Regions from separate parts of the Homo sapiens genome. Here regions 1 and 2 are each linked to region 3. The links come from fine-mapping of genetic effects on gene expression. A gene starts in region 3. Each other region holds a variant in brackets. All regions are shown on one strand. Distances are between the middles of the regions.

What was found.
Region 1: its variant is fine-mapped to the expression of CACNA1E in whole blood (TOPMed, PIP above 0.99).
Region 2: its variant is fine-mapped to the expression of CACNA1E in whole blood (TOPMed, PIP above 0.99).

What each region holds. Positions count from the first base shown.
Region 1 is chr1:181,497,923-181,508,587 of GRCh38, forward strand. The region is part of intron 1 of CACNA1E (calcium voltage-gated channel subunit alpha1 E); the gene reads left to right. Among named protein-coding and RNA genes, the nearest start is that of CACNA1E, 20 kb to the left of the region's middle. RefSeq lists enhancers at 81-230, 6,803-6,922, 7,343-7,572. The variant G/A (reference allele first, on the strand shown) is at 5,717.
Region 2 is chr1:181,535,849-181,546,513 of GRCh38, forward strand. All of the region lies in intron 3 of CACNA1E (calcium voltage-gated channel subunit alpha1 E), which reads left to right. Among named protein-coding and RNA genes, the nearest start is that of CACNA1E, 58 kb to the left of the region's middle. The variant A/G (reference allele first, on the strand shown) is at 4,951.
Region 3 is chr1:181,477,439-181,488,103 of GRCh38, forward strand. CACNA1E (calcium voltage-gated channel subunit alpha1 E) reads left to right here and starts at 6,079. Exons shown (of 48, transcript NM_001205293.3): 1 at 6,079-6,572. The coding sequence starts at 6,307. RefSeq lists enhancers at 4,270-4,802, 4,854-4,983, 5,786-6,310, 6,311-6,834, 7,797-7,926 and silencers at 5,134-5,263, 5,304-5,433.

The sequences.
Region 1 (10,665 bases), 20 kb after region 3:
GGAATGCGAGCTTGAGTCGGAATCTGAGATCTTTGCTATTTTGTCTTTCCCCCGCCAAAACTCCACTGCTGCAGTTCCTTTATCTGTCTGCAGAGCGCGTTTGGTTTGGAAATGCCAGTTCCCCTTTCAATATTAGCATGGAAAGTCCATTTTCTTTTTTCCGGTTCTCAGAGAAGTCTACCCTCAGTCCTTTCTGTTCTGGGGTACCCATAGTGTGAGTCATAGTGTGGAGGTGGCAGCTTTCATGACCTTCTCTTGAAATTTTACATACTGAATGCAGCTTTTTAAGGAAATGAGGGTTGGGTTATAGAGAGACTGCAGAAAGACTCTTATATCCTGATAAAGACTATAGAAGAGGCTTATAGTAGGTTTGTGGAAAAGGGCAGCTTTTCCACAATGGTTCACTTCCAGGCCACCATTGTGAAGATTCTAGCTTTTCTTTAACTCTGTTAGAGAAGCTGCTAGCGAATCCAACTGGTCATGGAGCTCCTATGCTTGACAATTTAGAAGTATTTCCATGGACTCTAGACCCTTTCAAGATGTCCCTGGGTGTGCCAGGATTTCCATTTTTGAATGCTATTGTGGGATCTCCTCATTAGTAATTTCACCAAAAATGGCTTCTCTCAGTTGTAATCATGTATGCTCTTTCTTTCTCCTCCATTTCCCTTCCCATCATGTTCCTCATTAGCATAACAGAATACTAGAATATTAGATTTATAGAGAATAAAAAGAAACTTGAATCAAACTCACACTTATCCATAAGAAAACTGAAGGCCATAGAGGTTAAATGATTTGCCTCAATAAGTGGCAGAGCAGAGCCTAGAACCCAGGGCCGCGACCAAGTGCCAGCATCCTTTTGTCACATTTTCTCTTCTTTCCTCTGTACCCTTTCTGTGCTCAACCATCTTCTCTCTAGTCCCTTCTTTCTCTTCTGGGGCTTCCTCATCCTTAGCAAGTATATGTTTTTGGTGTTTGGGGCATAGGAGGCTGGATATAAGGATCATGACTAATAAGAAAGGACTTACGTAAGAAAAAATAGGAATGGATAAGAGAAAGATATTCATAGAGGTGAAGCCAACCAGCAGAGATCCAGTGAGAATTGGTAACAGTGACTCAGAAAAATGGTTAATATTCTTCTTTCCCAAATATGTTGCTGGAGAACTTTGTGAAATGATAATATAAAACTCAATAGGCAATGGACTTCTACCCAGTGTAAAACCAAGAGCAGATCTCAGCAGATGGGAGAATAGATGGATGCTTAGGCAAGCACTCATCTCAGAATGGTTGCTGGGCTCTTCAGTAGCCCTAAGAAAGGCAAACTATCCAGACTCTGCCCTGAGAGGTAGCTCTTTGAGAACAATTGAGTACTCCTGGGAAGGAGGAAGCAGCTCAAATAAAAAGATCTTTAGATCCCTTTCTTTTAGAATTCTCTATTGGAGCTAAGAGACCAGGGAATTTTATTTGATTATTCTGATAATAGTTTTCCCAAGCTTTTCAGGGTGTAGGGCTGAGAGTACAGAGAGGTTTCTAGCCCTGGTTCTAGAAAAATCTCATTCCTTTCCTGGTCTCAGCATCTACATCTGTAAAATGAGTGTGTTGGAATAGTTACTAAGACTCTAAGGTGCCTTTCAGTTCCCACTGTAGAGACTCTGGGATTCTAGTTTCCATCATTGTTATTTCAGCTGATTGGAGGACACGATTAACTTTCTTGGTCTCCAGCATTCGAAGCCTGGCTGCACATTAGAATAAGCCTGGGAACTTCTAGAAATGCTGATACCTAGACTGCAGCCAAGACAAATTAAATCCAAATTTCTGGAGATAGGACCCCTGTATTCTTAATTTTGAAAAGCTTTCCAGGTGATTCTATGGTCCAGCCATGGCTGAGATCCACTGATCTTCTAGACCGAGGGGAGCCAGTTACCTGACTTCCTTCTGTTTCTTTTGAGTGTACTTTGATTACGTCTTGGCTGCTCCCTCTCAGTTTTCTTGCAGGCTATGGTGAAATAGCAGGAGCCGCCTGGGTGTCTTGAAATTTAGCCTGAGAGAATGGGGTGATTAATTCTTATGTGTCACTGCATTGACAAAGCCATTCACCTGTGGCTGCTTCCGACACACCTCCAGCTGCACAGGTAACAGCCTTCTGTGATGAGGGGGATGGACCAGACATCCTGAATGCAGGTCTGGCTGAGGAGGCCATTTGAGGCTGAAGGACAGAGTAAGGCTCACCCAGGAGGCCCTTGAGCAAGTGACTAAGAGTTGTTGACCTTGCTTCCTACCTGGTTGGTTCACCCCTTATGCATATGAAGGTTGATCCAGCATGACTACCATTGAATACAGCAGTCACCGCCTTAACATCCTTGACACTCCCCTGGGGATGTGGAACTCACAATAAGTGCTGTGCTGAAACTGGCTTGTCCCAGCTCTTGAGTGTCCTCTCTGTATGTCTCTTCTAGACTCCATGTTCAGTGATATCAAGATGGTAGCTTGAAATTGGCCATGGAGAGAGTATTTATACCCCAGAAATTTGCAAATGCTACACATTGGGGCTTTTCCCCCGAAGTTAAACATCTATTAGCACAACACTTAGTTTTCTACTTAACAAAATAGTCCATTCACTTGTGGAACAGTGGAAGTTCTTCTCTTTATTGCTCCAGATCTGTCTTCGGATGGGTACTCTGCACATTGGGTCTTAGTCTTTGCCTCCATAATAACTTAGAAAACATCTGAGCCCCTTATTACAAGCTAGCCCTTCAGATATTTGAAAGCAGCTGTGATGTATTTCTCAAGTCTTCCCTTTCCAAGCTGAGTATCCCTAGTTCTTTCAACATTATCTCACGTGGTTTGCAGGCTCAGTAGGTGTCTTTGAATGCCAGGGCACAGTTGCAGAGTTTTCAGAGGAAAACAAACATTCTCCCACAGGTGATCTATGGACTCTTTCACAAAAGGCTTTTCATTTTTCTTATGCTGTCTCAGTTCCATGATGCTGGTGTTGATATGAAGTGGGGTGTAGTCTTGGGTGGGGTTGCTGATTGCACCTCATAGTCATCTTCCCTGAAATGCACGTTGCTGCCAGAACTCTTGATGGGCTCCAATTCATCAGAGTGTCATCAAAACACAAATTCTCGTTTCTGAAACAGGTAATTTTCCCACTGCTGTTTTGTTTTCTTCCAGAGGCTTTTAATGCTCCCCTTTTCTTTTTTCCCTTTTCTGTAGCGTTCAATCATTTGTCTGCTGTTCACCAAAACTGTGTGTTGAATGACAGCGTTTTGAGTCCAGGATCCAGTCACACGCAAAACAAATGAATTTGTTAAGACTTATCCAGCTGTCTGTAACTGCAAGGGGCATGGCAGTGGGAGGAGGGAGGGAGACAGTACTGTCTTATTTTCTCAGAACCAGCACTTCCCATCCTTTGGGAATCAGGGCCCAGATGAGTCTGGAACTGACCTCAGTGTTGGTTCACCAAAGTAGCAATCATGTGCACTTCCTTTCAGCCACTTTATCCAGAGGGCAGGGTCCTGGGAGTCAGATGGGAGTTCTTTGGTCTAAAGTAATGAGAATTTGGACTTGCCTTCACAGCCAGCATTAAATGGGTAATGCTTAGGATCTTTTGCTTTGAGTAACTGAGTCCACTGACCTCCATGAGAGAGCAGCAGGATTGTATTGGCAAACAAAAGGCCTTTTGGGGAGTTCTCTGCCTCTTTGTTATGTTCTCAATATTGCTTTATTTGTCTTTCATTCATTAGGTTTTTAGGAGTAGGTGTGATGGCATTTCCATCTTCTTGACAGCAGGAGTGGGGAAGAGAGAGAGAGAGAGGGATTAAGAAGGAGAGAGGTGTGTGTCTGTTCAGGACTGCCTGTCAGATGGTGAATTTGAACAGAGGCAGCTGTTGTCATGGCGATGGCAGGTTGCATCCCACCACCATGGAAACCAAAGTTAAAAAACTGATGTTAAGGCTGGAAGTCACATGATACATTTTTGTTTTGTTTTGTTTTAAAAAAAGAAAAGGGGTTTGGTTTTTTAGTCTTTTTTTTTAAGATGAGGTTGGGTGGTGAGAAAAATTGCACAAGGAAAGCAATGAGATGATGACATGGGACAGTATGGAGTAGGCAGAGCCTTCTTTCATGTTTTTCTGCTTGTTGACAGTGCATGTCTCCTGCCGTGGTTAGAGAGGGGATGGGAGGGGTATGCAGGGTGGACTTCCAGGTTTGCAGCCAGAGTTGTACACTGCTAACTGTCACATGGAGAAACACAGGGGTTTAGCCCTCTTGCCCTTTGGAGGTGATGTGTGGTTCACCTTCTGTTGATCAGCCCAGAACAGACCCAGGAAACCTAAAAGTATGGACTACCCAAATAGGAAGATAGTCCATATATTGATAAATTTGGAAGGTTAACATTTATTTTCAGAGAATTGAAAAGTTCATCTATAGCTCCTCAGAATCTCCAGGAATAGTTCTGTCTGTTTATTCCCTTTTCTGGGCTGGTCTCTTTTGGGCTGCCATGTCCTGCCAGGGCAGCCATAGGAGTGAGTGCAAAGAAGTCCAGAAGGAGCCCTGGGCCAAGACTCCTTGCACCATAGCTTATCTCTTAACCTGGGCCCTCTCACCTGGGCAGGGTGGAGCGGCTTGCTGAGAGGCATTAGAAAGCCCTCTTGGCTCTCCATCTTTTTACCTCATACTGACTTCTACTTTATGCCATGATCTGGAGAAAATGTGAAACATCCCTCCAGGAAGGGAGCTGGACTGGCCAGGGCTGTTTTTGCTTGCTTGTTCTTTTTTTGTTTTGTTTTGTTTTTTGAGACAGAGTCTCACCCTGTCCCCCAGGCTGGAGTGCAGTGGTATGATCTCGGCTCACCACAACCTCCATCTCCTGGGTTCAAGCTATTCTCCTGCCTCAGCCTCCTAAGTAGCTGGGATTACAGGTGCCCACCACCATGTCTGGCTAATTTTTGTATTAATTGCAGAGACAGTGTTTCACCATGTTGGCCAGGCTGGTCTTGAACTCTTGACCTCAAGTGATTCACTCGCCTCGGCCTCCCAAAGTGCTGGGATTGCAGGCGTGAGCCACTGTGCCTGGCCAGGCCAGGCCTGTTTGAACAGGGCTGGTTTGAATTTTCCTTTTGTGTAGACAGGTTAGGAAGCAGAGATTTCTGTAAGAATGTCTGCTTCTAGGAAGGTGAGGAAGACCATGAGGGATGCAGACACACTGTTGAAGTGATGGTCATAACTATTGCTATGTCTGGGTTTTAGGCACAAGGTCTTATGTCTTCGGCATTACTCGTCCCTCCAGGACAGATGTATCTTTCTCAGTCGGCTCAGACGAGGGTCATATGATCTCACCAGCATGATCTCACTGCATTTCCATCAGGGTCTGTGGGAACTGGAGCCAGACTTCTGTGATGGTTCAACCCCTCCTGTTCTTAGCCCTGGCCTGGGGTGTGATTAATATCCCTTCTAATCACTGGGAGAGATTGCATCAGAGCCATCAGCTTCATAAATCCTCCTCTGGGGACTGGTGTTTGGATGCGCTTTCCATATTCTCAGGAGGTTCTGGGCCAAATGTCTTTGCTCTTTTCCTGGAGGCCCATTACCATAATTTTCTTTTAAATCCTTTATTGGAGTTGGTCTCCTCTGTGTCAGTCCATGGCTACAGCCAGCCAGCCCACTCCTGAGGGCTGGAGGCTGTAACCACCAACAGATGCTTTCCCCAAAGTATTGA[G/A]CCACAGTAGATGCTGAAAGATTGAGTTAGTAGGATACTGAAAGTAACTGTATTTGTGCAACACTTTACAGTTTTCAGAGGGAGTTCAGATTCCGGTATCATTTTAGGCTTCAGTCCTTTTGTATTTCTTGTTTGGTTCTGTGGGAATGGATGGTCATAACCCTTCATTGACTCTTGAGTACTGTGTTGGGACAGCTTTTGCAGTCGGAGGCCTGGCTCTGGTTTCCTTTACCAAGCTACATTTTTTCCATTGCATTCCAGGTCTTGAAGAAGATTCTGAAGTTACACGGAAGGCTTGGATAGCTGTATTTCATTCCTGTTCATATGTAAAATGTCTATTTGGTGTCATGCTAATAGGGAATCACAGACTAGTTAAGGCTCTTTCTCTGTTACTGTCTTTGAGTCAAAGTCCACTTATTAGGATGATATTTATGTGCACATGAAGAAGAGGTGGAAAGACATGCATGAAGGTGTCCATGCCATCCTCTGAGGCTGTTACATCTCTTGGATTTAGACATCCAAAAACATGAGACTGAAGGGAGAAAAGGAGACAGGTCTTCCTGTAGGGTCTGGGGTGAGGGGTGGAAATGGGTAAAGGAGGCTGAGGAATGCCTCCCCTCAGACTGTGGACTCTTCTATACCCCCCCAGGAGTTTCCAGGAAGTGCCTGAGTGCCCACCGACTGCTCCCCACAAAAGCATATTCTGCATTAGGCTGAAGTTGGGAGAGTGCACAGCATTCTATCTGCCTGCCTGTCAGAGCATGGCCTTCTTAGTGTTCGGATGTCATAGGCTCTGGGAGGAGACAGCTAAGTACAGAGGTCTTCAGGATGAGCCCCCTGGTGGTGATAGAGATGCATGTTTGCCTGGGGACACCCAATATTTACTGCCTGAGGCCTAAGTCCTTCCCAAGCATGTACCTACAGATCTGTACCTGAGAGGTGATGATGAGGAGGCTTTTCAGGCTCAGGCAGATGAAGAGCTCAGCTCCAGGCCAGGCCCCCAGGGCTCCGGTGACAGCAGAACCAGCATCACCACCCTTGCCCCAGCTTTCTGTGCTTCAAGAAGGAAATGAACAAATGGCAGGTGTGCAGGCCACGTCGTGCTGCTCAAATTAGCCATGTTGCTAAGGAAACAAGTCAACCATTCAAAGGAAGGAGCATTGGGTAAAGGAGATAAATCAATAAGTGAACCTATTTTTATCATTTCCCTAATGATTGTCTTGAAACTGCTAGACTAGAAAGAGAGTTGGAGCAACACAGGTCCTCATTAATGGGCTCAGAGGGAACGAGGAGTGAAGGGGTGTTTGAGGAGATTGCCAGTAAAGTTTATGAAATGAGGCCTCTAGTGAGCAGTGAGCTGGTACAGGAGGGAAGGCAGGAAGGAAGATGTCTTTTGCAAGTTTCAAAGTGGTTTCATGGTCATTTCCTCATTTTGGCCAGGTCCCTTCATTCTCTTGCATTTAATCCTCTCCGAAGTCTTTTTCTGATTTCTCTGGCCATCGCATTCCTCCTCACTCTCAGGTTGGGATGGGTTTTTGTGTTGATTTGTTCTTTTCAGGATACATATAGCTTTAATTGATTTTGTAGTGATAAATGAACACATGCTCATTTGAACACTCAGAAAATGGTTAGAGGAGTAAAGAAGAAAGTGAAAATAACCCTGCTACCGAGAGAAGACTCATCATCCTTCCAGCAAGACAGAATTTTTTCTTGTTCTCTCCCTTCTCTTTTTTTTTGTTTTTGTTTTTTTTGAGACGGAGTCTTGCTGTGTTGCCCAGGCTGGAATGCAGTCGCACGATCTCAGCTCACTGCAAGCTCTGCCTCCCAGGTTCACGCCATTCTCCTGCCTCAGCCTCCTGAGTAGCTGGGACTACAGGTGCGTGCCACCATGCCTGGCTAACATTTTGTATTTTTTTTAGTAGAGATGGGGTTTCACCGTGTTAGCCAGGATGATCTTGATCTCCTGACCTCGTGATCTGCCCACCTCGGCTTCTGAAAGTGCTGGGATTACAGGCGTGAGCCACCGCACCTGGCCTTCTCTTTTTTTTTTTAAACATGAAAGGGATCTTCCATGTATGCTGGTTTATTTTCTTTTTTAAATAGGTCATGTGTGTCTACAGTGGACAGTATAAAAAGTTCAAATGGGTATACAGTGTGGAGAGTGTGGGTACCTTTTGTAAGGATACCTCTGGCTCTAGTTTCCCTGTATGATTCATTTATCAATTGAATATTAATTTATTAATAAAATAACAGTTACCGGGGCCCCACTGTGTGCCAAGTACAGTGGTGAGTGAGGCAGGCAAGGTCCTGCCCTGGGGCTCCCAGTCCTTACTGCCCCATCATCTCCATTTGTTCAAGATTTCAAAACACAAGCAATCTGGATACCAGGGATAGATATTCTTCCCTAAAATATGCACAGTGTCAGGCACAGAGTGTAATGAGTGTCACTGAATTCTAGAACAGAGAGTCAGAGTCCTGGACAGACTTCCATCTTGTCCCTGATTGTGGTTGCCATGAAGGGTGATGGTCTTTGAGGCCGTGGCGACTCGGAGCTCCCTTTGACCTTTCTAAGTCATGTCTTTGTCCAGTCTGCCAGGTTGAGGGGCACTAGCTTGACTGGTGGGTGGGTGTTATTTGCCGTCTAGGCTCTTCACTTTGGGGATGTAGCAGAGCCATTGCTTTGGGGTGTGAAGTTTTGCTGTCGGGAAGAAATGGGAGTGGTGCCTCGGAGGCAGCCTGCAAGGGTGGGAGTGAGCAGGAGCCATGGCTCAGGCCAGAGTGGGTGAGCAAAGCCCTGTCTTTGTAATGGCTCCTTAGTGAATGCCTCATGTTCATTCTTACCTGCATTGAACATTGACTAAGCTCCTACTATATACCATGGGCTCTGCTAAGCACTGCCAGTAGAGACATGAGCAAAACTCCTGCTTTCAAGATATAGTTTCTTGATTTAAATAGGAGAAGAAATAATACAGTCACACAATTCAAAGAGCTGTGGGGCACGGGGAGAAACTTTCACTGACAAGGTGGCATTTCAGCTTGGTCTTGATGTATGACTGGAAAGGAGAAGAAACGCCATTGCATGTGGTGGCAGAAGCACCTAGATGTAAATGCCTCTTTTTTGTGCTTTCTTCAGAAAGGGAAGTGGAAAAGAGTTTAAAGAACAGGGCTGTAAGGGAGAGTGGCTGGGGCCTAGGCAGACTTGGATGGTCTCTTCTGCTCACCTCCCCTGAGATTTCCCTGCCACTATCCATTCTTTCACCTAGCCCACAGTTACACAGAATCTCCACATTCTCACTGCAGGTTCTTCATTACCGCAGCCATGAATTCATCCTGAGGTCTAGATGCCCTATAAGGCTGAAAGGGACATCCCTCTCAAGGGCATATATATCTGAACAATTTTAAAAATGTAAAGCAAAAAAAAAAATATTTTTAAGCCAGAAGATTGCTGCTGTGAATGGGCCTCACATCAGATAGTGGGAAGAGGATTTGGCTGGAGAGGAAGTGAGAATAGGGTCTTCTTAGAACCTGTGAATTACCAAACTCCCACCTTTAGATTCTAGACTTTAGGGCCTTGGGTAGCACCAGCCATCAAGACCTCATGAATTCTCAGCCACCCAGATACCTGGCCAGTCACTGGGAGTTTGACTCATCAGCACCTGGGCCAAGAGCCATTCCGCTGCCTGGAGCATCTTCCGGTGGTGTTGGCTACACCTTCCTGAGCTAGCCTGTGTCCCCACAAACCTCACATATCTGCCCTTGGACATTCTGGACTAGTTGAGCTTAAAGGTCCTTATAGGGAGCAATATACTTGGGTTAACTGGCTAGGAAAATGCAGGTATGGGTGTGGAAGCAGGGAGCTGGGGCAGTGGAGGAACTGCCATGGTCCAAGGGGATATTGTGAGTGGAGAGTCAGGGGCAGTGGAGGAGCTGCCATGGTCCAAGTGGGTATTGTGAGTGGGGAGGCCTCGGAGGCACATGGCTGCCAGGACCTGTCTTGCCTGCAGGCTCAGCACTGAGAACCCATCTACTTTGAAGCCTGTGCTTATCACTTTCAGGTTTTCAGGGGAAGAAGATTCAACCCCCCAAAACAATCATAGACCCCACATAGACCCATTAGAATGCGAGAGGTCTGCAGCTTGAACGAGAAAGTACTTGTGCCCAGTCCTACCTTCCAGGGCAGGCACTGGGCTTCTTGGATCTGCTGAGCAGGTGTCTGAAATTGCATGAGACGTTTCCAGCTGTGAGGAGTGACCAGGTGAGCCCCACACTGTTGTGAACACTTTTGTTAGGAACCAGGACAGGGGATGACATGGAAGAGGCCCTGGTTTCACTCCAGTCAGATCCATCATCCCTCCTGCCCCAGCTCTTGGGGACTGGCAGACAGACCCCCACTTTGTGTCAGGCTGCCCAGGTATGTTCCTGGGAACACCGTTCAAAAGAGATGCTCTGAAAAAAAGAGTTACAAGGTGAAGCAAGTTTGGGAAATGTTGTGTGCTGTCCCAAACGCCTTGTGTGTGTGTGTGTGTGTGTGTGTGTGATGGGGTGTGTGCCCACTGTATGCAAAAGTATTAAAGGCCCCAAGAAGTCCTGCTGGGGAGAAACCTGCTTAACTTTGCCCAACCCAGGCTTTCTCTCATTGGTTGATTGCAAGTTCCTATAGCACCAGTATTTCATGGCCTGCATCTTAGGAATACCACTCTCAACGCTCTCAACTTCTGTTGTCTTTTGTCAGTGACTTGTATGCGTGTTGCCAGTTCTCTTTCTGGATCCATCGCCCAAGCATGTTTTCAGGAAAGGGTATGGATTCCTTGGCCACCATTGCTGCTGGGTTCCCATCTTTAATTTGCAGGATGAGTCTGGGATTCCGGGTGCCTATGCCAGGCCCAGGGCAACCTAGGCTGTTCAGAAGGCTTATGGGACACTGGGTCCTTGTGTGGTTCCTGGTTGCT
Region 2 (10,665 bases), 58 kb after region 3:
GCTAATTTTTGTATTTTTAGTAGAGATGGGGTTTCACCATGTTGGCCAGGCTGGTCTTAAACTCCTGACCTCAGGTGGTCCACCGACCTTGGCCTCCCAAAGTGCTGGGATTACAGGCATGAGCCACCATGCCTGGCCAACATGATTATTTCTTTACAGATAACTTTTGTTTCCTCTTTCATTGGAAGCATTAGCATTTTTTCCTTACTTTTGGTGCTGTAAAATTTCACTAATATGTGTCTTATATGATGGTTTCTATTTATTTTTATTTTTATGGCATTTTAAGATTTCTATTTTTATTCAATGCTGGGAAGTACTTTTGAATTGATTCTTTTACTTTCAAATTCTCTGCTTCTCCACTTCTTAATTTTGCTTCTCTCCATTTTATCTATTCTTTATTTGTAGCACTTGTTTTAAATGATGTTGGAATTTCTTCCCTCTATTTTTAATCTTTTCTTTATATTTTTCATCTTTTTCTTACTCTTGTGTTGATTTCTGGGAACACTGCTCAGTTCAGTTTTTCACATCTCAAATTCACCTGTCTATTTTGCCACTCAATCTACTTAATCATTTTAAAAGTTTTCAGTTATCGAAATGTTCAATTGCACCATCTCTAGGTAATTTTGTAAAATGCTTGCAATATTCTCACACTTTTCTCTAAGCTGATAATTATATGTCTTCATTCTCATTGAGTATAAGTTCTTTGATTGTTGAGTTTGTTCTCTCTCTCTCCGTGGTATTGAAATTCCTCAAGTTTTTGGTGATTCTTGATTGTAATATTATCTTCTTTCTACCATGTCTGTTTGTGCAAACTTCTTGGAAGGAGAATACCTATGAAGCTAATAGTCTGGCAAGGGTATAGAAGTGGTGAGACCTGCTGCTGGATGGGTCACTTTGATGACCAGTCCCCTGGGAGAGAGCACTTCCTGTTCCTCTCAGGCATGGAAAGGCATGAGAGCACTTCCCCATCTTTCTCACCCAACTTTCATGCCCATTGCCCCTGCTTGTGGGCATATTTTCCTTTTTGCTGCCTGGTCTGAGGGATAAGGTGGGTTAAGGAGGAGGGTTAAAGTGAGTGCTTGATCTTCCTGCTACTGTATTCAAACCATCACCCTGTTGGTCACCTGGATCCCATCAGATCCCAGTGGCCACCCTCTGTAGGTGGGAGCACTTGTGGTGACATGCCTACATTTAGAGTGGTCATATTCTCTTCTGAGGGCTGGGGGCCGTGGTTTCTTTTTCTTTTCTTTTTTTTTTTTTTTTTTTTTGAGATGGAGTTTTGCTCTTGTTGCCCAGGCTGGAGTGCAGTGGCACGATCTCGGCTCACTGCACCCTCCACCTCCAAGATTCAAGTGATTCTCCTGCCTCAGCTTCCCAAGTAACTGGGATTACAGGCATGAACCACCACACCTGGCTAATTTTGTGTTTTTAGTAGAGACAGGGTTTCACCTTGTTGGCCAGGCTGGTCTTGAACTCCTAACCTCAGGCGATCCACCCACCTTGGCCTCCCAAAGTGCTGGGATTACAGGTGTGAGCCACCACACCTGGCCTGTGGTTTCTTTTTAAAAATCAGATTGTAGCTACTTTCTGTCCAGAGGGGATTCATCACAACATCTAGCCTAGTGAGGGTTTGTTTCTCTTTTTTCTGTCCAGTGTGGTTACTGTATGTATATAGAAAATGATTTCTAGGAATTTGGTGGAAGGGGGGAGAGGTCACAGTGTGTGTTCAGTCTACCTGTCTGAGAGAGAAGTTGAGGCAATATTTTCTTCTAACCTCTCTGAGTCTCAGTTACTTCACATTCAAAATGAGGTGGTGATGATGATGAAGCATGAGGGTGGTAGTGGTGATTCTCAGTTAATATTTGAAATTGGAGTGTATGTCAGGCACTGTTCTAAGTACTTTACCTGTGCAAACACATCTAATGCCTCAACAACCCTATGATGTCTATTCTATTACTATTGCCATTTTATAGATGAAGAAACAGAGGTACAGTGAGATTAAATAATTTACCCAGATAAGGGGCTACCTACTATGTAGGATTAGTTTGAGAATTATTAAGCTAACACATGTAAAGCACTTAGCATAGTACCTGAAATATATTGGAACAACAAAAATGGCACTAATAAATATATACTGAGTGAATGAAAAGTCACCAAATATTTATATTCCATGCAGTTTGCAGAAGATCTTGTAGAAGTTAGTTGGACAGGGTGCCCTGTTCTAGTGTTTTCTGTCTTAGTGTTTTTATGTAATATAAAAGCTGTGTGTTTCTGGCCATTTGATTCTTACCCTACCAGCTCAATATTTAAAATTTTTACATATTGAGTTATTGGTGCTTGAAACCATTTTAAATCTTTCTGCTTTCTCATATGATATGATTGCAAATAAATTAGGTAATGAGTTTTAAAAAATCAGTTGTGGTTAATCTTTCAGGTTCAGAGAACTGAAAAATATATCTGCTTTAAGGGAACTTACATTCTAATTTCCATACACATATATATTACATGCATTTTTATACATGCTGCATGAGAAAGATGTCCTTTATATGGTGGTTCTGTATTGAATACCAGCATCCAGCACATTGTCTGGCACAGAGCAGGTGTTCAATAAAGTACTGCTGATTCAATGGAATCTTTTTCATGTGTTATACGTAAATGTGCATGTATATGTAAATTGGAATGCAAATCTGTGCCTTCCTGGGACCCATAGTCTAGTGGAAGAGAGTGACAAGAAGCAATTGCAATACATCACCGCACTAATGCTCTGTTGAATGTATTCTGGGAGTATGGAAGAAGGAGAAGGTGACTGTGTTTGGGAAAAAAAAAACACAGAGAGGTGATATTTATTTAAGCTGGATGTTGAAGGTGGGTAGGAGATTGCCAAGGAGAACATGGGAAAGGGCATTCAGTCAGGGAAAGTGGAGGAAAGCAAACTGACTAGCAAAGTCCTGAGAATCTACAAAGTGAAAATCTGTTCAGTGATATAGTGTTAATCTGAAAAGGCTTCTGTTGAATTTTGAAAAAGATCATGCAGAAGATGATAAGCATGGTTTCACAAAATGTAATATAATTCTGCAATTCTTTGCCTAAAGGCTTTCAGTGGTTTGCTGTTTTCTGCAGCAGAATACAAGATCCCTCCTGACCTGACCACATGCAGCCTGCCCTCCAGCTATACTGGACTACTTGTGGTTCCTTGAATTGTGTGCTATTTCATGCCTCCTTCCTTTTGAATGTGCTCTTTTGCATGCTGTAACACCAACCCTGCCATCCCTCTGGCTGGTATCTATTCAGCTAAGTGACTATTCCCTGACTGTGCTTCCTCCCCATTTCCTTCTATTTTCCGTTACTCGTTGACTAGGCTCACCCTAAACTTCACTCACCCAGTTGACATTAGTATCTCCTCCACTACATAGCTTCTCACCAAGGGCTTGAAGGCAGGGGTTGTATTGTATTCTATTTGAACTCCTTGTGTGCCTGGCACTTAGTAGTCATTCAGCAAATATTACCAAATGAACAGATAATGACTGAACAAGCTAATTAATGAATTAATGAATGAATGAATGGCAGATATGAAAGGGGGAAGAATTCAGGAAGACAGGCAAAATATTTCAAGGATACCTTTAAGGCCAAATGAAGAAATGGAAGGTTGATCCAGCCAATCCTTGTCACATGATCACCTTCATGGGAGGAAGAATATATTATTCCCGGTCTGCTTACCCCTTCTCTAATGGTCCTTTTACCACTACTAATGCTCTGTATGAGCCTCTCAATCCAGGTGTCCCGCAAGGTCTGAGTCCCACTGAAGCTTTTCTTAAGTTGAGTAAAAGTAACCTGAAAAAACTGATAAGCATTTTTCTTAGTAGAAATCCTTCCTCTGAGCAGTAACCTCTGAATATTATGTATAAAACCATTACATTACTTAATGGATAAGACTCATGTTAAAATTCACCTTGTCTCCACAGAAGATAGACCCAGAGTTTAGTCTTTGCTTTTAGTGGCCACATGTAAAAGTGGTGTACAGTGGAGCTGTATTACTTATTATAGGTCTTGTGTTAAAATAGGACAAAGGTAAAATTAGAAACCAGGATGCCAGATTTCAGGTCCCCAGTCTTACAACAAATAAACATGCTTCCTATTTAGGTCCTCTTTGGTCTCTCTCCTCCTTATCATCACCATCAGCAGATGCTCAATGAACACCTCCTATTTGGGTGTGACATCCTGTTGTGTGCTTGTGATGCACAGTTAGACCCTTCAGATTGTTTATAATAAGGGAGATGGAGAACCTTCACAAAATCCCCCGATGTAAACGCATTTCCTAGATCCCTTGTGGAATTTATTGTAATTCTATACATGCACACAATAAACATCAGAGGGCTTCGAGTAGGTGCCTCATCATCAGGAATGCCCTGTATCCTCATCTCCCAAACCGTGGCACAGGGCTGATTCCCCTGTGTTTACTACCCTAATCTCTGTGCTCTATGGCAACATGGTGTTTTATATGGCTTTTATATGGTAGTGTGTACTCCTTGTGTGCCTGGCACTTAGTAGTTATTCAGCAATATTTGATAAATATTGAACAAATTAACAAATGAATGACACATATGAAAGTGAGAGAATTAGGAAGGCAGATGATGGGGTTTAGAATATGCTCCCCAAAATATGTCACCTTGGCGTACTCAATGTTTTAAGCTAAAGGAATTTGAAAAACAACGTGTGCAGGAAAGACTCTCTGGTCTTCCCCTGAAAGAGCTCATAGAACGCTCATGTGAGAGGTGCCCTCCCATCCCTGGAGGAAAGGAGCATCGTGATCCCTGAAGACAGAGGGACACTGACAGGGATATGAACAAATGGACCTCGCAAAGTCTCCCCTAGTTTACTGTACTTAGCCCACACCATTTTGTCTTATTGTATTTTTCCATAATTTTCCACTCTTCATCAAACCTGGTATTA[A/G]AACAGTCAGGTATAATCATTTCTTGGAGTCCTCATTTCCTTATAAAGGCTCCTGTGTCTTATAAAAGTTATACAGGTTAAGCATCCCTAATCCAAAAATCCAAAATCAGGAAATGCTCCAAAATCTGTAACTTCTTGTAACGTGGTATTCAAATGCTCATTGGAGCATTTCAGATTTTGGAGTTTTGGATTAGAGATGCTCAACTGGTGAGTATAACATGAATATTCCCAAATCAAAGAAATCCAAAACACCTCTGCTCCCATGCATTTTGGATAAAGGATATTTAACCTGAATTAAATAAATCTGTATGTTTTTCTTTTGTTAATTTGTCTTTTGTTATAGAACCACAGCTGAGAACCTGGAAGGGTAAAAGGAAAAGGTTTTTTCCTCCACTACGCGGGCAAAATATTGCAAGGATGTTCTTAAGGTCCTAAAAAATCTTAAGATTTAACAGGTTTTTAGGCAGAAATGTTGTACTTTCCATTTAGAAAGAAGTTGAAGCTTTATATCCAACATTATATATGTTTAACATAATAACAGTTAAAGATACACTTAAAAAAAGATGGAGAGAATTTTCAAGGAATAGGATTTCAGGAGCTAGAGGTACTAGGAGTTATGAATCTCCCCATTAGATAGGTAGACAATGAAAAAAAAAAGGGGGAAGGGGATGATTTGCAGTTTGATGGTAACAGGATCGTTGAGAGCAGCAAAACAGAAGTAAATTGATGCTCATCTCCCAGATTAGTTGAGAACGGCCTAATTAGCTAATGAACAGTTCCAGTCCTATGTTCTGAAAGGCTCTGTTTCTGGGCAAGCCGCAGTGCTTAGCAGCAGCTGCTAAACCATGTGGACATGCTAACACCAAGCAGAGGAGCACATGTTATGTTTTGACCTGCAAAGACTCGTCTTTTTGAGTCACACATTCTTCAAGGAGTATTAGAGATCTTGTTTCTTCGTATAATAGAGAAGTAGCAGTCTCAGTGGCATGAACTCTGGAGCCAGACTGCCTGGGTTCAAATCTCAGCTTTGTCACTTACTAACACAGTGATCACTGCTGCTTGGTCTCTATGTCCTCATGTAGGCCCTTGCTCCCCACCATTGTATCAGGTTTGGTCTGGGTGACCAAGAGAACACGGCAGAAGTGAGGGTGTGGCTTTTGAGGCTAGGTCCTAGCAGACATTGCCATATCTTCCTTGCTCTCTTGGATCACTTGCTTGGTGGGGAAGCAGGTTACCATATCATGAGGACACTCAAGGAGCCCTATGGAAAGTCACATGATCAGGAACTGGAGACTCCTGCCAAAGCCATGAGTAAGCCGTCCTGGAAACCCAGATTAGTCAAGTGTTCAGATAACTGCAAACCCCAGCTGACAGCTTGACTCCAACTGTGGTTGGTTTCTTGACTGCAACCTCATGAGAGATCTTGAGCAAAAGATCCCCACAAAAACACTCTCAGATTCCCCACATTGCTAATTACTGTTTTAAGCCACGAAGCTTGCTTTTCAGAAGTGTTAATAGATAATTAAAGCAAAAAACTTTGTAAAGAACTAGTTTAAAGGATGTTCTTAACAACAGACTTGACTTGATGAAGAAATAGTGGCTGATATTGTTTGGCTTTGTGTCTCCACCCAAATCTCATCTTGAATTGTAATCTCCACAGTCCCCACATGTCAAGGGGGAGATCAGGTGGAGGTAATTGAATCATGGGGGTGGTTTCCCCCATGCTGTTCTCATGATAGTGAGTGAGTTCTCACGAGATCTGATGGTTTTATAAGGGGCTCTTCCCCATTGGCTCAGCACTTCTCCTTCCTGCTGCCTTGTGAAGAAAGTGTCTTACTTCCCCTTTGCCATGATTCTAAGTTTCCTGAGGCCTCCCCAGCCACGCTGAACTGTGAGTCAGTTAAAACTCTTTCCCTTATAAATTACCCAGTCCCGAGCAGTTCTTTATAGCAGTATGAAATCGGACTAATACAGTGGCATGCCTTTTAATTTCTTGATTTATGGAATACCTTTAAAGTAATGTTACCTAAAGTAACTTTTGTGGAACAGTAGTCCTGCAAGATGCTCCATATATAAGGGGTTTGATGTGTTTATTAGTTTGGGAAATGCTGCATACTAGATCTCCTTCTTGGAAATACACGTTGCTCATAAGCATATTAAAGAATATAAACAAGTCTTAAGGATTTTTTGTTTGTTTGCGTAGTCCATTGTTTCCTAAACTCATATAACCAAGGAATTTTTAAAGTCAAATGTCACATATTAAAATATTAGAGAATACTCTGTAAGAAATGTTGTCTTATAACACTGATTCTCAGACTTATGCCTACATCAGAATTGTCTGGAAAGCTTAAAACGAGATTGTTGGGCCCCACTCCCTGTGTTTCTAATTCAGATAACCTGGGGTAGGGCTTGAAAATTTGCATTTCTAATAAGATCCCTGCTGATGCTGATGCTGCTGATGGGTGCGTGTGTCGGGAGGGGACCACATTTTGGGAACCACTGTTCACTAGGGTTTCAGGTTCCTGAGTAAGAGCTTAAAGAATGAACATGCAAATGGCCAATAAGCACAGGAACTGATGTTCATCTGCTATGGACTGAATGTTCCTGTCCACAAATTCATATGTTGAAACCCCAGTCCCCAATGTAATGATATTTGGAGGTAGGGTTTGGGGGAGCTAATTAGTTCATAAGGGTACAGCCTTTATGATGGGAATAGTGCTTTCAGAACAGCCGTAAGAGAGCTTGCTTCATCTCTCTCTGTCATGTGAGAACACAGTAAGAAGATGGTTCTCTGCAGACTGAGAAGAGGGTCCTCGCCAGGAATCTAACTGGCCAGCACCTTGATCTTGGACATCCCAGCCTCCAAAACTTTGAGAAATAAATTTCTGTTGTTGAGGCCACCCAGTGTATGGTATTTTTTAAAGCAGCTGGAACTGAGCAAGGCAACATCATTAGCCATTAGGGAAATGCAAATAAAAACCACGATAAGATACCACCTCACACCCATTAGGGTGGTTACAATAAAAGAGACAGACAATAACAAATATTGAGCAGGAATATGGAGAAATTTGGATCCTCACACATTGCTGTTGAGAATGTGAAATGGCACAGCCTCTTTTAAGCTCCTTAAAATGTTAAACATGGACCATATGACCCAGCTATTTCACCTCTAGAAATTTTAAGAGGCATAACATATACCCATACAAAAAGTTGTGCATTAATGTCCATAGCAGCATCATTCACAATAGACAAAAAGTATCCCAAGTGTACATCAGCTGATGAATGGGTAGACAAAATGTGGCATGTCAGACAATGGAATACTACTCGACAATGAAAAGCAACAAAGTACTGATACTTGCTATAATGTGGGTGGACCTGGAAAACATAAAGAAGTTCCTCACAACAGGCTACATATTTTATGACTCCATTTATATTAAAAAGTTCAGAATGAGCAAATCCATAAAGGGCGTACGATAGTTGTTACGAAAGGCTGGTAGAAGTGAGGTGGGGAGTTGACTGGTAATGGGTTTGGAGTTTTTTTGGAGCGTTGAAAATGTCCTAAAATTAGATAGTGGTGATGGTTGCACAATCCTGAATATACTAAAAAAAAAAACCCCACTGAATTGTACGCTTTAGAAGGGTAAATTATGTGGTTGTAAATTATAACTCAATAAAGCTGCTATAAAAATGCATATAGCTTCTAAATTAGGATGGCAACAAAAGTACAAATATCCAATTGCAGTATACGTTTTAACTTTATTGTAACCTATAAGGTGCCAGAGGCATACTACAAATGGTGGCAGTGGTGGGTTGGTGCAAGCTGAAAATTTAGATGTAGCTGGCGTTTTAGCACCCTTCTCCCCCTCCTTCATTCCCGTGCAGATAATAAATGTTTATTGTTGTTCTATTGTGGCCCCAAGTGAGCTGTGGACATGGTGGGGAAGCAGCAGGCTGACCCCGGAGGGTTTGCTAATCAGAGAGAGTGTAAAACCTGTTTCAGAATCTGTCATTTACATGGGGCAGCAAATGACAGATAGCAATTTAAAGGGTCACCTTTCCCAGGGTATGGCTGTTTGTTTTGGTCATTGTGGTTGGTTGTTTTGCATTTTAAGAATGTTTGGAGCCTTAAGCTAGCACAGTGGCTCTCCAAACTTCAGCGTGCATCAAAATCTTCTGAGGTTCTTGTTTAAAATGAAAAATTTGGCCCTACCCCCAGAGGGTAAGGAATCTGCCTGTTTAGCAAGCACTCAGATCATTCTGATGCAGGTGGCTCATGGACCACGGTAAAAACATTTCAGCTCCAAAAAAAAAAGTCTTGCTATGTTGGGGGTGTACATAAATAAGCATGGGGCTGATCTAACCAACCCCAGGACAGTAGTTACTCCCAGAAGGAGGGGATGAAAACAGGTTGGGTGGAGCCTTGCCTGTGTCTGAAATGTCTAGGTTTTTTAAAACATGATTTGAAAGAAATAACAGAAAATATTAACCCCTGTTACATATAATACCATGTTTGTTGTATCTTTTGCCTTATTTTTTGACTATTTGAAATGCAGTATCTCAAAGTATTTTGTCATACTTGGCATTTTAGATGTTCGTCCATTCCAGGGACTCAGCGCACTGAGGCAGGGAAGACAGTGGTCCAGTTGGTGGGCTCCCTGTGTCCTGCAGGGCTGTGGGGGGATGGCAGTGCTCCCAGCTTGGAATCCCCCCACACTGAGGTGGGAGATTTCCTCCTCCCACGTGAGGGTGTGGTCTTGACTACTCCTGGCTCCACACAGGCTGTCCCTTAGGGCAGGGGGCAGGAGCTCAAGAAGCTGGAGGATAGAATTTCTCCCCTGAGAACAGGAAAGAGAGGAGGCACGAGGAAACCACAGTCTGTCTGCTTTACCCTGATGGACTTCTGTTCAGGGAGTTTGGGTGAATTCCACATTTTGATCACAATAGTTGTCGCCTGCCTTTCTTTTCCCTCATAGCTTTCAAGACCCCTTTCATGTCCCTCTGTCTCCAGGAAAGATGATTTATTTTTTTCTTGGCCCAAGGCTCCCCCAGGGGCCCCAAGTCCAAACACTTTCTTTGCTGTTCCTTCAGGAGTGTTCTTTCTGTGATCCCATTATATTGAAATATATGCAGATGGAGCATCACGTGTGCCTCTAGGGGGTTGGGGAGGAGCCTAAGGAACCTAGAGAGCCATCCTGAGATGTGGGGAGAGGGTTGGGGTGCTGCAGGAGAGCGGGATGACTGGCCTGTGTTGACAGACACGCCGTGGGGAAGCAGAAGCTGCCCCGACAGTCTTGTAAATGGAGTGTTCACCTCTAGCAGATGTAAGGCATGGTTTGGAAGGGGATGTGTGCCAGGTCGTCAAGTTTCACAGCAGTCTCAGGCCAGTTGGGAAGCCTGGCAGCGTGTGCCATCCCTGAGCAAGAGGGAGGCTGGAAGAGAGGACTGTGGTCTGAAAGTTAGGAGCCCTGGGCTCTTGCTAGCTTCTTCCTTCTTCGAACCTCTGCCCTGCTGTGTGAGAGCAGGTAGTGCCCTTCCTCTGCCTTATGGAGTGATGAGAAGGAATTAGGGCACTTGGAAGATGCTGATTTCTAATCCTTTAGTTGCCACCAGGCCTCAGCCCCCTTGACTTTCTTCCTCACCCCCTCAATTTTCCTGCTGCCCTTGAGCTCTTCATAAAAGTCCCTGCTGGGGCCCTGCCTTCTGTTTTCTATCTCA
Region 3 (10,665 bases):
ATCCCTGAGAACAATGTGTGGCTCATCAAAGGGGATTAATGAGTATTTGTTAAATGGGTTTATGAATTCATGAATAAGTAAACAAACACACAGCTCTCTCAGGTATCATGGCCTTTGGGTCTCCAGACACTGGTCTCTACTATTTTTTTTTCCTTTTTTCCTCCATTCCTCTTTCTGACCTGATCTCAGGCACTTACATGTCTCTGCTCCTCTGTCCATCCCCCGCACAACAGAGTGTGTTCATCCCTGGCTGCACTTCTGAAGTTGGCTTTCAGAAACAGAGTCTGTAGACATGCAGTGTTTCCAGTGTGTTACCGTGGTCACAGCTACTGAAGGTGAAATGTACATAACAAGTACTTACGTAGCACATACTTATTGTGTGCAAGGTACTGATCTAAGAGCTTTATGCATATAAACTAACTTAATTTTCACAACAGCCCAGTGGAGCAGAATGGTATTATTCTTAACAATTAAACCCTCTGGGAGACTCTCTGGTTCAAGGTCATGCCTTACCTCTCTAAAGCTCAAGATCCTGCCTATAACTTGACTCTTAAGCAAGGAAAATATTATTTTGACATGCAGTATGTTAATAATGGTCACATATTGTGAAGAATCCTGTCCTTATTATTAGGAGATCCAGCTCTGCTATTTCCTAGCTCTGTGCACTTGGACAAGTCCCTGACTCTCTGGGTGTTCAGATAACAGGATGTGCCTCACAGTCCTTCTGCAAAGATGCAATGAGAAAACATTACGGTTGGCACCCAGGAAGTGATGGGTTGTCATAAATGAATGGTTTTTAAAACACTTTAAAACCAACTTTGCTGACCTGTGGTTAGCTGATAGCATGTTGGAGTGTGGGGCTTCTCAGGCTTAGGTTTGAGAGATGCTGATTCTAGGGACGGACATTACATAAGGATGTGAAGTTATGTTTTCACCCAAGTAAGGGCTGTGAGGTATTGTGAAAGCCACCAGACTCCCAAGATGTCTGCATTGCCATAATGCTCCTCTGCTCCACTATGCATTTGCACATGGTCTCCTGCCAACTTTTTTCTTAAGAACCCACTCCCAAATCCTCTCTGCATTATGTTCCTTAGAGCACTGCTTTGCATAAGAGTCTATTTCTTGGAAAAGCTCAACGGAGGAAAAATAGAACAAAAGGGGCTCTGATAACTTAAGCATAAGCTATCTGAGTGTAACTGGCAGGGTGGGGGAAGATGAAGGAGCAGGCCTGGTGGGAGGGGCACAGGCCATTTGGATGAAGCCCACATTCACAGACTTCTCAGTGATGGGTGAAAAATCTCTTATGAAGATGGCCCAAGGCCTGACAGATCTGGGAAGAGCTTAAGAATGAGGGTAATAGGCCAACTGCTTCTCCAACTTTGCCACTCATGTCCATCTGTCTTAGTACAAACTCCCACAGGCTGCCTGATCTGGGGCAGTGTGGACACCTTGTTTTCTGCCTTTTCCAGAAGAGGCTGGAGGGACTACCTACCAGTCCCCTTCACACCTGATTGCAGCTCGATGATACACTGCAGTAGAGGGGCTGCAGGATAAATGCTTTGAAATGTAATAGTCTTCATGGGCTTTATAAAGTAGGAAAGTTTTCCACTTGCTTCCTTAGCTCCTGTTGGGTTTCCACTTTGCAGGTCATTGCTTTCAGAAAAACATGTGGAGCATTTGGTAACCCCATCTTAACTTGGGAGGGTGTGTGTGGGGCTGCACTTTCCAACTACTGTGAGATGGGCTGGCTGCATTGTGGTGAAATTTAGTACCTCAACAAAGTCCCATAGGGGAGTAGAGGGCTGTTGACAAGAGGTCAGAGCCTAGGAATATCTAAGCTCTGAGGCATGGTGCATGGGGTGCTGGGCTGCCAAGCACTCGTGCTCAGTGACCAGTAGATGGTGCTCTGACAACAGGAAAATACAGTTACTGTCCCTCTGAGACTGGAAAGGGATTTTCAGATGGTCTTCAGACTGGTTTCCAATCAGAGTTATGACTAATTGCTAATTTTCCACATTTCCATTTGTGGATCCTTAATAGGACAGTGGAACTCGGGGCACTGGAAGGAGAATGCCCACCAAATTCCCATATGAAGAAATTCCCATATGAAGTCATGCAATACCGCATGACTACAGTATTCTGGTCATGAACTTTTTCTGAGGATCCTCCTGGATATTGAGGGCATGGTGCCAGGAACACTTGGCCTCTGATCAAATTCAATTTGAGGATGGTAAGCATAGCATTTCCATAGGCTTAGTGTCATTGTATAGTTTCTTCTCTTGATAAACAATTTAGAATTACCCTATTGCTGTCCTGAAGGGCAGCATGGGTTTTAGAAAGAGCCGCAGATTGGAAGTCAGATGTGTTAGAAGTCCACACTCTGCCGCTTATCAGATGTGGGCAAACGGCTTAACGTTGCTGAAACTCTGCTGCTTTGTCTGTCAAGGGTCGTGATACATGTGTTACCAGGCTCACCTCAGAAGTTTGGAGTCAGGCTCAGCTGTGGGGCTTATGTAAACTGAAAACTATTAAACACATGTATTATTCAACCATTAAAATTGTAGCCACTGGCGGGGCGCAATGGCTCATGCTAGCACTTTGGGAGGCTGAGGCAGGTGGATTGCTTGAGCCTAGGAGTTGCCAGCTAGGACAACATAGTGAGACCGTCGTCTCTATAAAAAAAAATAAAAACAACAACTGTAGCTGCCTTGGGGGCTGGTAGAATGGGGGATTAGAGAGTATGAAACCAGTATAGAAATTCATAGATCTCAAAGCTCTCAAGAGCTATGACAGCCAGGTGGGGGTGGAAGATGAGAGTCTGTCTTCCTGCTAGCACTGCTGCCCTTAGGCCAAGTCTCTTCACAAAGCCATTTATGCCATTATGTTTGCCCCTTTCCTTTTTGGCTGCACCCTCCAAGAATTATCCCTTTTAACTCACATAGGTGCTGAAACTCCCTAAGGTATTCCACATTAATTCCCAACCTATGCATTTATGATTCCTGTCTCCTTGGAAGGCAAGAAGGCAGATATCAACTCCAGTGTGTCGTCGCATTTGCACATGTAGTATCCCATCTTGAGTATTCTAGGTCTCTGAAGAATTACAACAGCCAAAGAGAATACAGGACGTGGAATACTGGATCTCTGCTGACATCTGATAACACTGAAGAGACAAGTCGGGGATCTCTGATGTTCCAAGAACTAAGTCTGGGAAGTAAAAGGCTAGTGAGCCCTGCTTATTCTGGGCATTGAGAAGGTATGCCGCCAGCCTGCTGAGGCAGAACCACAAAGGAAAGGGGTGAGGTGACAGCATGAGAGTGAAGTTCATGAAGCTTTCTGGCCTGCAAGGTTATACAATCTAGTATAATCTAGTGTAAAAAGCTACATGATTTATGTCATCACCCATCTTGTTCATTATAGTATCCTCAGTGCCTAAAACAGTGCCTGGCACCTGGAAGGGACTCAAAGATACTTCTCTAATGATTTGAATGAATTTTGTGCTATGGATTATGGTACTGTCTGAAAGGAGCGACATACACTTAATAATTTCTGAAAGCCCTTTTTCTAACCCTATGTAGTTTACAGGGATACCGAGATAGCCACTTGGGACTAGTTCTAAGTGACTGGCTGATGGGACTTCATGGTTCACAGCACCACCCTCCCTCCGTTTCACGACTGACTAGGTATTCAGACAGAAGAGGACCCTCTGATTAAAGCAGGAGGAAGGACAGAGTAAGGCAGTAATGTGAAATCAAAGTAACAATTACAGCTGACTCACCTTGAATAGTAATTTCACCTGAAATGGGCTCCCCTGAATCCAAAGGTCAAATGCCTTCCCCAAGGGCAGCAGGCTGGACATGTTGAGACCATTCCTTTGGATTTCCAGTAGAGAATTTTCCTACACACACACACACACACACACACACACACACACACTCTCACATACATTCTCACACAACAGACACATGTCAGTGCTCACAGGGCCTTGCCCACAGACAGACACATACCCGTAGAAACACACATGCCATGCACTCAGACATCACCTCACTTCTCAACAGTTAATCTCACTTCACAGGCGTGAAGCCATACTCACCCATGGTTTCCAACCTCTGGGCTTTGGTCAGTGTCTGTTTCCTTCCTCAGCCCCTCCTTTCCTTCTTCCCTTCCATTGTTCGGGTTGGAAGGATTTGGAGAGGCCTATGTGTTGAGCCAAGGCAGGAAAACACAGAAGACGGTGTGCCCCAGCTAGTGTGGACATGGGAGGGGACAGCTGGTCCCTGCCCTCAGTTCAAACCACCAGTCACCTGTGGGGAAGGGCTTGGCGGCTAAACAGGAGCTCTTTCCCTGGGGCTTGGAGTCCACCTTTCCCACCTCTGCAGCTCAGATACCAATTCTATTTTTTTTTTTTTCTACATTAATGGGTTGGGTTTGAGAAAGTCCGTGGAGCTTATTTGGGAGTAAAGGATGGGGGGCGGGAGGATCCTTCTGATTGTTCGCATTTCGAGAAGGGTAGTTTTAGCCCATAACTCACCATGGAGGGCCCTTCCAGGAGACGTCGGGCAGGGCTTTCCTACAGCGGAACCGGGAGGCCGCCCCGTGAGGGCAGAAGCTCCCGCCAGGAGCCAGCACCACCAGCAGAGTGTGGAACCCCCAGAGGTCCTAGCCTCCTCCACGGGGCCTCCCAGGTGCTAAGTGGGGAGATGGGGAGAGGGTTCTGCCCTCTACTTGGAAATGCCTGGCCGTGTTCGTGGAGCCTGGGAGGTGCGGAGGAGCGGCGACGCGGCCATGGCGCTAGGCGCGCAAAGGCCCCGACACCTTACTAGGGCGGCGGCGGGCCCGTGGCACCGCTCCCGGCACCGAACAGGGCACAGCACTGGGGACACCTCTCTGCAGGGACCCAAGACGCGCGTGCGTGTGCGCCCCACGCCAGGCCCTCGCTCTCTTGCGGAGACTCCGCCGCATCGCTGGCTGCACCTGCCTCTCTCTTCTCGGCATTACTTGGGGGAAAGGGGACTCTTCACTGGACCTTTGCAGAGGTGGCTGCTACCCTTTGGCCACATAAATCAAGAAGGCAAGCCAGCCTCACCTTCCAGGAACCTCCAGCCTTCCGGCTGCGTCCCCGCCCCTCCCGCCTGGCCAGCTCCTCCCCCGCTTCTCCCAGCGCTCTTGCGCGCCTCGCTGCGCCTCTGCGCGCCGCTCGCTGTCCTCTGCCTCGCCTCCCCATTCTCCTTCCGCATCTTCTCCAGTGCTCCGCCGAGGGCGCTGCCTGCGGGGAAGAGGGAGACTGAGCCGTTAGTGAGGAAGTTCGGTCTGTGGACAAGTGTGGTGCCAGGCCGCCGCGAGGCTCGGCTGCAACCTGTTCCTCGCCCGCCGGTGCTCGCCGCCCGCCCGCTCGCACTCCCGCCCTCTCGGCGGCGCAGCCGCGGATCGCTGTTGCATGCTGATCCGGGGAGGCGGCGGTGGCGAGCGCTCCGGGCGGATGCTGGCACTCAGGCTTCGCTGCTCTCTGGATGCTGCTCAACTTCTAGCCCAAGCGCAGGAGCTTTGAAGTCATTTGTCCCTTTTCGCTTGGATCGACTTCTTATTTTGAGATTTTGGGCATTGCGGTTTACGCAGGAACCTCAATATCGCTCTCCCCACCTCCCTCCCTCTTTCTCCAACCTTTGGATGCGTCTCTGCTGGCAGATATAAAGACCCAAGTCTTCGCGGTGGAATTTCTTAGATGGACTTGCAGGGGCTGGCGTTATAAAGCATGTCATCGTAACCCCGTCCTCGTCTTTGTTTATTTTTTTTTAAAGTTCTTTTGTTTTCATTTTCCCCTCCTTCCCACCCCTTCCCCCAACCAATAAATCACCAAACTGTTACCTAGCGGGCCGGTGCCTGCCTCTCTCCCTGAACTAGGTGGTGCGTCTGCCAGAAGAGGAGCTATGTTTGAAGAGCAGCCTACTCCACCCCTCTCCTCTCTGGTCCCTGAACACCACCACACACTGGCATTTTGAAAAAAATATTTTCCTCCAGAAACTGGGCACCCCCAAGCCCTACCACCCGCTTTTTTTTTCTTTTTTCTTTTTTTTTTTTTTCCTTCTTGAGGAATGGAGCTTCGCAGAGGTTGCATTTAGATTCAACAGTTCACAGCGGCGGGCTGCTGCTGCTGCCTCTCCGAAGAGCTCGCGGAGCTCCCCAGAGGCGGTGGTCCCCGTGCTTGTCTGGATGCGGCTCTGAGTCTCCGTGTGTCTTTCTGCTTGTTGCTGTGTGCGGGTGTTCGGCCGCGATCACCTTTGTGTGTCTTCTGTCTGTTTAAACCTCAGGATGGCTCGCTTCGGGGAGGCGGTGGTCGCCAGGCCAGGGTCCGGCGATGGAGACTCGGACCAGAGCAGGAACCGGCAAGGAACCCCCGTGCCGGCCTCGGGGCAGGCGGCCGCCTACAAGCAGACGAAAGCACAGAGGGCGCGGACTATGGCTTTGTACAACCCCATTCCCGTCCGGCAGAACTGTTTCACCGTCAACAGATCCCTGTTCATCTTCGGAGAAGATAACATTGTCAGGAAATATGCCAAGAAGCTCATCGATTGGCCATATCCTTTCTTGCCCACCATAACTCCCTCTCCCCCTTTGCATTTCTTCGGGTGAAGGGGGGTACCTAGCATGGAATGTATCCCCCACCCCTTCCTGGTGCCAATTTGCCCCTTTGCTGAAGCACACTCTTCGGTGCATCTAAGGGGCAAGCTTGGTGCCGTGGAGACCCGTTTGGGCACTAGTGTTTTTCAAGGTAAGACTTTTGGTTTTTTATTTTTCCTATGTGGAAATCTTTAGTGTCCCTGGGTGCATCCCTTTCTGGGCTGGGCTTTGTCTGATTCCCAGCCCCCTCCCCACCCCTACTCCCTTCACATGCCGCCCTCTACATAGATTGGGTTGCCCCAATGCTTCCTTTCATAATTAATTCTCATTTTCCTTTCTTTAAGCCAGCCACTCTGCCCGTATCCCCACCAACCAGGAGACACCGCACTGTCTTCCTGTAGGGAAGTCAAGGCTCCATGAGGGGATTTATCAGTTCAGAAGTTCCCAGGGCCAAAACCCTGTGTACAGATAGACAAATGAATAAATAAAACAGGCTTTTGGGTGGGGACTCAGCTAACTCTAGGGACTTAAGTTTAAGTTCCACTGAAAGTGGCATGAGTGAGTGTCTGTCAGGGGAGGTGATCTCTGTTGCCACAGCCCAAGGAGCTCAAACTTGGAGTTCTCCTCTCAGCCAAGAAAGAGCAGCTCATCAGGCCCATCCTGTCCTTGGTCCTTGGTTGGGTACTCTTGCTTCTTAGTGCTTGACCCAGCTGATTGCTCTCCCAGTATCCAGGATCCAGGTGGATCGGCTGGGCCTGAATTCATCCGCTGAGGCCAGAGGTGTGCATGCAGTCTCTCTCTCCCTAGCTCCAAAGGAACTGCTCTCCCCAAAGCACTGGTGGGGGCCATCTCTGATGGTGGTGGTGTCAGGGTGAACAGGCATGGAAGGAGCTTCTTTGCAGGTTTAATCAAGTGCACCAAATGCAGACTGCTGATTAGGCAGCTCACTGCCTTGTTCTTCACTAAGGATTGGACGCCTGGCAAGGCCATTGGGAATTGGGGGTGGTGAGGCAGTGAAGGGGATTAGTAGGAGGCAAGCTAGTGGTCTGGCGTTAAATATGGGGATGGGGTTGGAGACATGGGACTTTGGGAGGGAGATTTGGGAGGGATGCATCTGCAATGGAGGCCCCTTCTTTTCTCCCCTATTCTCCCTCTTTCCCACCCCCACCGTCCAGGTGTGCAGCAGTGAGGCAGCTGGAGCTGCCTTGGGTCTCTAGTATTAGCCAGACACGCGGCTCATTTCCCCCAGGGCCTGGGCATCTCCCTACTCCCCCAACCCCAGTCTCTGGCCTTCCCCTTCTTCTCTAGTTCCCTGCCTCAGCAGCTCGGTGATTGGCTGGCGCGTGGTGCTTCTAGGCAGCACCCCCTCATTAGAAACGAAGGAGCATCTCTAAGCAGATATTCTTCCTGCTGCTGTTCGCATCCTCCCACAGCAACCCCGGCTGGGCTTCTCCCTCTCTCCTCTCTGCATCCCGCTCCCCTGCTCCACTCTCACAGAGTGATCCCAGGCCATCCATTGCCTGAGTTGAACGTATCTAGCTAGGGTGGAGGTTTCGGGCGGGGGAGGGGTCGGGTCCCTGCAGTCACGCCTGCCGGTGCGCTGCACAAAGCGGACAGATCTCATTGTGTTGTGTGCTGCGGCTGCAAATATTCCTCTAGGCAGTCTACGGATTTCCCAGCTGGGCCCTCCTTTCTCACTCGGCTTCTACGGTTCTCTAAATCTTCCCATCCACCAGGTGCTGCCTTGCTGTGCCCCTCTCTTAGGGGCGTGTTTATTCAGACAGGCGCCCTCCCGTTTCTTTGCGGTAGACAAAGCCGCCCAACCGCCCCGCGGGTGGCAAAGTGTGCCAGCAGCCATCGTTGGCACCTCGGACAGCGCCGCTGAAACTCCCGGCGGCCCGGGGCTCCCCAGTTACCCGGGTTCAGCACCTCGGGTACTTCTGGCCGGGCCCAGCCTTGGAGCTGAGAAACCAGGCACGTTTCCTACACCACGTGGTCACCTTTTTTCACGTTTTCTCTTCCGCTGCAAAGACACCGCCTTTCCACCAGGCGTTGCGAGCGCGCAAGGTGCGGCTGTGAGTCTTACTCCTCCCTTTCCTTGTCTTTGGCCAAAAATGGACCAAAGAGAGTCAAACGGGAGACTCTCGAGGGAGTTGATTTCAGCATCATGCTCAGTGCCTTGGCCCCGAGCCCTGTCCCAATGGTCTCTTTTGTCTGCATAGTTGGAAATTTCACAGTGGTTCTACAGCATGTAGGCTGTGGTAACAGTGTTCAGGGAACATCTGCTAAGGTGTTTAGTGGAGCCCTGTTGGAAAATATAAAATACACCATGTACAATGTAATTGACTAATATATTCCCTCTGGTGGTGACCACGTGGAAACATTGGGCTTCCGTGGGAAACGCACCTAAATTCCTAGTCTCACCTTCCTTTCCTTTCTAAACAAATAACTTCCCAAGTATCTTGCTTTGTCTTATTGGGAGTCAGTCTGGGTAGTGGTTGCCCATAAAGCTTTGGAGCTAGGCTGCCTGGGTTGAAATCCTAGTTCCTTCACCAGCTTTCTGACCTTGAAAATTACTTCATTACTCTGTGACTCAGTCTTCTTACCTGTTAAATGAGGATAATAATAATAATACTGGGAGAATTAAATGACTTAATATATATCACATGCCTAAAACATTATCTAATTACCCAGTAATCACTAGTTGTTATTATTAATGGCATCTTTCAGAAATTTCAGCGTGCCTGAAGTGGGGAGGGGTCTTAGTTCAGGTGAAGTCCTCTAGATTCTTGCCTCTCAAAGAGAGCAAGGAGCTGCATCCACATCACCTGGGAGCTTGCTAAAAATTCAGAATCCTGGGCCCCACTTCAATCCTGCTGAATCAGAATCTGCATTGTAATGAGATCCCTGTGTGATTAATATGCTCATTAAAGTTTAGGAAGTACTTCTTTGCTCTTTGTAAGTGCCAGATTTTTTTTTTTTTTTTTAAGAAAGGAAGGTTGTTCAGTTGTTCAGAAAACATGTCAAGACCTGCTTTCATATTGACATTTGCACATTTAGCATGCTTGAGGATTTTGTTTGTGTTACAACACGTTTTGAGACTTACACTTTCATTGGCTGCAGAAAGTCACTGTAGGACGAGGGGGATAATGTACACTTCTATGTGCCGCATTAGTGGTCTCATCATGCTGTGCATTACTGGTCTTTAATCATGTTTGTCTGAAAAGATTGGTTAAGTAAAAGGAATGGTTTAATTTATGCTTCTAGGATCACCCCGACTTGGAGGGGGAGGGTAATCTTATCCAGTTATTAATAGGGGAGGTCTAGTTCTTATGGGAAGAAATGCTCAAGATAACCCAGATTTGGCATGAAAGATGGTGGCAAGTCAACAGCCTACTCTGAATGTGTTTCATTTTTCTTGGAAGCTACATCTGCATAGGGAGATAATTTTATTTTCTTATGGCACTTTCCTCTGCAGTGGATACCATACTCTTTTTAAAAATGCTAATGTGATTTAAAATGTGATGTTACATTCTATACGATTCCTCGTTTTCATTTTCTTTTTTGCTCATCTAATAGATCTTCTCTGGCAGTTGGCTGTTCTGAGTGCCCTCCCATGTTCACCGTGCCTCATGCTTACCAGCTCTCACTGTTTCATGCCCAGGGCCAGTTACCCTGTGGGCCATACAGCATCTCTCATGTGGTTTGCAGGATGCCCCACACTTGTTTGAACTTTTCCAGGTCACGGGTGTGAAGGCAAGAAGTAGTGTGTCTGGCTTGGAGACTCTATGCCAGAGTTGGGCAATAGGATATTCCCCCCACACCTCCATCGCCTTGGTTGTCTCAGCAGGGGAGAACATGCTTCGTGTGGAAATGAATATGGCTTACAGTAGGAAGGTCAAATATGTTTGCAGCCCTGAGATAATGAAGCTCATCACAATGAACCTGTGGACATTAATCCATGATTTCTTATTGTAGAGAATTTCACTGTATCCCCAAAGCACTCTGGCTATGGATCAGAGGTTGTATGCTTTACTACTGTGAATCTCC